2 separate regions of the Homo sapiens genome follow, and region 2 is linked to region 1. Evidence: fine-mapped expression QTL. Tissue or cell type: whole blood. Region 1 holds a variant in brackets; the other region holds the start of a gene. All regions are shown on one strand. Distances are from middle to middle. Region 1 overlaps MAX (MYC associated factor X). Region 2 holds the start of MAX (MYC associated factor X).

Evidence for each region. PIP is the estimated chance that this variant, and not a neighbour inherited with it, causes the effect.
Region 2: MAX starts here. The variant in region 1 is fine-mapped to the expression of MAX in whole blood (TOPMed, PIP above 0.99).

The regions. Positions count from the first base shown.
Region 1 is chr14:65,077,245-65,080,154 of GRCh38, reverse strand. MAX (MYC associated factor X) reads left to right here. Exons shown (of 5, transcript NM_002382.5): 4 at 2,119-2,242. Among named protein-coding and RNA genes, the nearest start is that of MAX-AS1, 11 kb to the left of the region's middle. RefSeq lists an enhancer at 1,777-2,752. The variant C/A (reference allele first, on the strand shown) is at 1,622.
Region 2 is chr14:65,100,806-65,103,715 of GRCh38, reverse strand. It overlaps MAX (MYC associated factor X), which reads left to right and starts at 1,199. Exons shown (of 5, transcript NM_002382.5): 1 at 1,199-1,412; 2 at 2,144-2,170. The coding sequence starts at 1,377. RefSeq lists enhancers at 785-934, 1,628-2,128 and a silencer at 1,265-1,614.

The sequences.
Region 1 (2,910 bases):
AGGCCAATGCGTAGCACACAGTAGGTAATCACCCCAGCCAGAAGCCATCTTTCCCGTGGTGTCTCTAGTCTCTGCTAGTCAGGTTACGCTTGTCAGCACTGCCCTGTGATATTTCCATGTATAGACATATTTATCTCCTCAACTAGATAGTAAGTAAGCTTTGGGGCAAAGAAGCCATGACTAATACATTTTGTTTCCCCACAGTATCTGCCTAGTATCTTGTACGTAATTTGCACCTGATAAAAATGGTTGATTATGAACAATTTCCTTGAGGAAATTACCTTAAGGGTGCTAAAGAGGAAAGCCTGGAAATTCTAGTACTTGTGAGGACTTATGAATAAGCACGGGCCTTACAAACCTTTCTGAAACTCAGCCCAAACTGAGGCCTATAAATTGAGATTGTTAGGATTTAATATGAGTAGATCTGGTTTTGCTAGCCACGGTGTACATGTTTTCTTTGTCTTTCTCCCGCTGTTGTGTTCTGGTTGTTTAGGACCCATTGGGCTTGTAATACAGAATTGTCAAGCACTCCCTACCCTGAGTAAGAAGCTTTCCGGCTGCTCAGGAGTCTCTGGCTGGAAGGCCATACTTAAGCTACTAGGCTACCCCGCCTTGAGCTTCGCTTGGCTTTGTACTATTCTACCAGTTTGGCTGGCTGCCTGGCCATAAGTAACTCTGACTATGTTTGTAGCCTGGAGAGAATCTCCCAGACAAGTTTGATGTCTAGGGGCACAGTAACATGACATCCATGTTATTGACTTACGAACTTACTCTAGCAAGGCAGTACCCAGGCAACCCACAGCCATTGTAGAGGTGTGGTTGTTTCCTGAAATGGCCCAATCTCATGCTCTTCCTGTGTTGACATCAAGCACCGACAGCTTTTTATGAAAGTCTCTTTAGCCAGGAAGGCTGAAGTAGTGACACAGCAGCATTGTTCAGTTCGGAATAGTTAACAGTGGTTTCAGAGTTTGGCTGGAATCTTGGGTCTTGATGAAACACATTGTACCCATTCCTGTCTCAAGCCAGGCCCTAGCAGAATTAGTGACCTAAAGCTTTCATTTAAGTAGTATTTTAATGTTTCCAGACATAGCCAAGCTAAAGACTTTAAAGCAACCTAAAGAACCAGAGGAGATGGGAGGAGTACAGTTCAGGAGTCGGATGGCTCTGAGTTTAAAGCCAGGCCATGCTACTGTGCAGCTGGTGATTTTGAATAAAGCGGTGTACTTCTCTGATCCTTGGGTTCTTAGTAGAGCTACCTCTGAGACTAATCTTGTGAGTTAAGCTCTGTAAAGCACTTGGCACCTTGTATGTCACAAAGAAGGCCTTCACGGATGCAGTGGCTCACGCCTGTAATCCCAGCAGTTTGGGAGGCCGAGGTAGGTGGATCACCTGAGGTGAGGAGTTTGAGACCAGTCTGGCCAACATGGTGAAACCCCATCTTTATTAAAAATGTAAAAATTAGCCAGGCAACGTGGCATGTACTTGTAATCCCAGCTACTCTGGAGGCTGAGGCAGAAGAATCACTTGAACCTGGGAGGTGGAGGTTGCAGTGAGCTGAGATCACACCACTCTACTCCAGCCTGGGCAACAGAGCGAGACTACGTCTCCAAAAAAAAAAAAA[C/A]AACAACAACAACAACAACAACAGGCTGGGCGCAGTGGCTCACACCTGTGACCTATAATCCCAGCATTTTGGGAGGCCAAGGTGGGCAGATCACCTGAGGCCAGGAGTTTGAGACCAGCCTGGCTAACATGGTGAAACCGCATTTCTACTAAAAATACAAAAAAATTAGATGGGCGTGGTGGCGCACACCTATAATCCTAGCTACTCAGGAGGCTGAGGCAGGAGAATCACTTGAACCCAGGAGGCGGAGGTTGCTGTCAGCCAAGATCACGCTGTTGCACTCCAGCTTGGGCAACAAGAGCGAAACTCTGTCTCAAAAAAATAAAAAAATAAATAAATAAATAAAGCCTACAGTAGCCATTATTGTATTTCTTCAGCCTTTTCCCACCTTACCCTCTCGTTTCCAGCCACCCAAGCAGTTGCTGCAGGCCAGGTTCCCTCACTGCCTGGATTGGGTTTTTATTTTGTCCCCTGTGCTTTTTCTCATATTGCCACAGGCATCCCGGGCCCAAATCCTAGACAAAGCCACAGAATATATCCAGTATATGCGAAGGAAAAACCACACACACCAGCAAGATATTGACGACCTCAAGCGGCAGAATGCTCTTCTGGAGCAGCAAGGTGAGCACCCGAGCTCGTGGGGCAGCTGGCCCTGCTGTGCTCCAGCCAGGTCAGGCTTTGGCACCTGGGCCTGCAGAGTCAGAGCCAGTCATGGAGTATGTGCTCAGTAGCAGGCTTGGTCCTGCTTCTTGGGGCCTGAGTAACTGAGTGTTAGAGCCGTCCTGAGGAAGGACCTGAGGCGCCAGTGAGGAGACAGTGGAAGCTAGGAAGTTGGACATCTGGAGACTTGTATCTTTTCTGGCCTGACCTCTCCCCTTCTTGGGGCTCAGGTGCTCTGCCTGCAGTAGGGATCACACCTGGCATCAGGTGTCTGAAAAGAGCTTTGAGGTCCTTGGAGTGGAATGTGCTGTGTAAGTACCAGAGACTCCAGGTGTTCAGGGACAGTGAGCCCTCCCCATTGTCAATGGTAGTCCAATCAGGGCAGCCTATGGGCTAGGCCCATGCTGTTCTCAATGCTCACACCCGCCTTTTCCTACAACCACAGGGGAAAGCGAGAGCTGATCAAGTTCTTTGTTCCTGGGGAATTCACTTCTCTTCCTCCCTCATGGAAGATGCAAGTAAAAGGAAATGCAAGTAACCACCTGGGTTAGAAAACCTCAAATAAAATAAAATAAAATAAATTAAATGGGTTGACCTTCCAGGCTCAAGCTGAGCTGAACCAAGGGATG
Region 2 (2,910 bases), 24 kb before region 1:
CTTTGGAGACCAGATGTAAAGGAGTAGTATGGGTACTTTGTCTCAGGGTGGAAAGTGTCTGTTATGGTTTTCTTCCTTCCCATGGGACTTGTTGCACACTCTTACAATGGCGGCAGGACCGGCACGCTTGCTTGCACAGCTGTGAGCTGCATGAAGGCAGGGATGGTTTTGGTCTTATCCGTTATGGCATCCCCTTGTGGCAAGTTAGGTGTTCAATAAATATCGGTGGAATGCATGTGATTACACTTCATGCCACAGTATATAAATATGATTTTAACTGGACAGGGAACTGCAAAAGTTTCCCATATTGATCCTTTTTGCAATCTTAATTATGGTACTCTGAGCTGGGATATTGCCTAAACTGTCTGGGCTACAACAAACTCTGAAGGGGCTTTTACTTCCACGTCCATAGTGGTTGAGGGTTCGCGTTGTGTGAACGCTGGAGCCTCACGTGAGTAGCTGAGTAGCGAGGATGGTCACTCCCAGATAAACGAATACAGGATTCTCGCGGCTGGGAGCGGTCGCCCGGCGAGGTCGGTCATTCTGCCTGTCCGGTAGCACCACGAAACACCTGCCACTGACACCTCCCCACCAGCCCCCGAGGGTTCGCGCAGGCATCCCGAGCCGCGCCCCCTGGTCCGCCGCAGCCAGATTCCCTCCCGGGCGGGTTACGCCCCTAGGCGCAAAACGGAACCACTCCGTATGAAGAAGACAAAGTATAACCAGTCACACCAAAGAGAGGCAGCATTATTTAGACAGCCGGCTACTCCCCCAGAGACTCCACCCAGTCCCCTGGGCCCGGCGTCCAGCGCGCAGACGGTGCCCGGCTCCAGGAGTTCCAGCTCCCTCCACGTGTCCTGTCTTCCCAGCAGCCTCCTCTGCCGCCTCGGGAGGAAAATCTCCTGACAACTCGCGGTCTGCGGACTACGACTCCCAGGAGGCGCCGCGCCGCGGCTCTCCCCGCCCCCCCCCGCCCCCCCCCCCCTCCCCGGGACGCGCAGGCGCCTTGGGCTCCGTCAACAAGCCGGGCTGGCGTCGCCTGGATGCGGTTTCTTCCGGGATTTGTAGTTTTTCTGGAGCTACCCGGGCCGTCTGTTAGAGGGACAAGAACTACAAGTCTCGGCTGCCCCAGCGCTGCGAGCCTGGTCACGTGGCGGGGGCCGACCGGGCGTGCGTGCCGCCGTTGATCCGGTGCTGCAGTGAGGAGGTGGTTCTTGCCCGTGTTGTGTGTGTGTGTGAGTGAGAGAGCGAGTGAGTGAGTGAGTGAGTGTGTGTGTGGGGGGGACTCGGCTTGTTGTTGTCGGTGACTTCCCCCTCCCCTTCACCCCTTCCCCTCCCCGCCGCCGCTGCAGTGGCCGCTCCCTGGGCCGTAGGAAATGAGCGATAACGATGACATCGAGGTGGAGAGCGACGTGAGTCCTGGGGCTTCTTCCTTCCCGTGCGGGTTGTCAGGCGGGGACAGCGGCCGGGGCTCTTAGCGGGGCGACGGCGGGAGGGGGCCGGGCTGCCGCCGCCTCCTTCCCCTTCCCCTCGGGGCCAGGAGTGCCTCCGTCGCGTTCCCGGTTCGCTCCCCTCCGGCTCCTGGCCGGAGCGGCCTCCTGGGACTGGAGGTTGGGGGAAGACACGCGGCTTCTGGGACCCCCACCTCCTCCCTTGCGGGAGGGTGCTGCGGCCTCCCGCTCCCACCTTCCCCGGCTCAGGATCCGGGGGACAAGGATGGGGGGCGCCCGGGATCCCATTGTCCGGATCCAGGGGAAGGGGACGGCGTTCAGGACCTGCCCCTTCGGACTGCGATCCTCTCCTCCCGTGACCCGCGGATCCTGGGGGCCGGGGAAGGGCGGAGAGGGGTTGGGGGTGCCTAGATGCCCGAGCTGGGTCTGCAGGGAGGAGACAGTGCTCGGGACCCCTCTGGCCCAGGTCGGATCCCGGAAGGAGGGGCGGCGCTCGGGACCCCTCTACCCTGCTACCGGATCCCGCCGAGGGTGGAAGGGTGGGGGCAAGGGGTGGGGAGGGAGGAAGGGGTGTCGGGCTGACTCCCCACCCTCCGCTTCCTCTGCCGCCGGCATTTTCTTTCTTATTATTGAATGTTAAGTGTAAAAATAACTTCTATATTTTCTATTTTTTTTTTTCTCTCTTATTCCAGGAAGAGCAACCGAGGTTTCAATCTGCGGTACGTCTCCTACTCTCCATTTCATTTTTATTTCCGTTCAGTTCTATTCCTTTTTGGGGTCAGAGAGAAAAAGAGATCGTACTATTACTTTTAATATTGTAGTAAACTCTAATGTTAACCACTAAGGTGAGGTGGGGCCTGGTTCTGGAGGGTGGGGGGGTTGCAAATCCCATTATTCTAGATTCTCAGGTGATAAGTTCAGTGATTCTAGGTGAGTAAGAGGAGCTGTATGCAAAGAATTGAATTGTTCTGTAGTTTTCAGATAGGGGATCCAGATGCCACTATGTAAGTGGAAATGAGAAATGCAGCATTCTGGTCTGGTAGTATTATTTCAGGGCAAAGTGGTCAGAAGATTTATTTAGGAACAAGTAGGTTTTAAACCATATCTGTATAATTGTGTGAAGCTGAAGCCACATGCGGTAATCGCCTTTAACCAAGTCATGTGACTGCTATAGACCCGTAGAATCTAGCACAACATGGTATTCTAATGCAAAAATTGGAAATGTAGAGGAGCCAAACGTTACATCATCAAAGTGTCACATAAAGTTATTATGGTCTGATTCTCTGTATTTGAAGAAAAGGTATAAAGAAAATTAAAAAATAGCTGAAGAAAAGTGGCATTGCAGAGACAGCTTTGCTGAAAGGTGATGGATGAGACCATAGAGTGTTATCAATAATTTCTTAGGGTTTTGATATTAATGTTCTCAGTAGATGGTTCTGTGGATTTAGATAAGCACTAA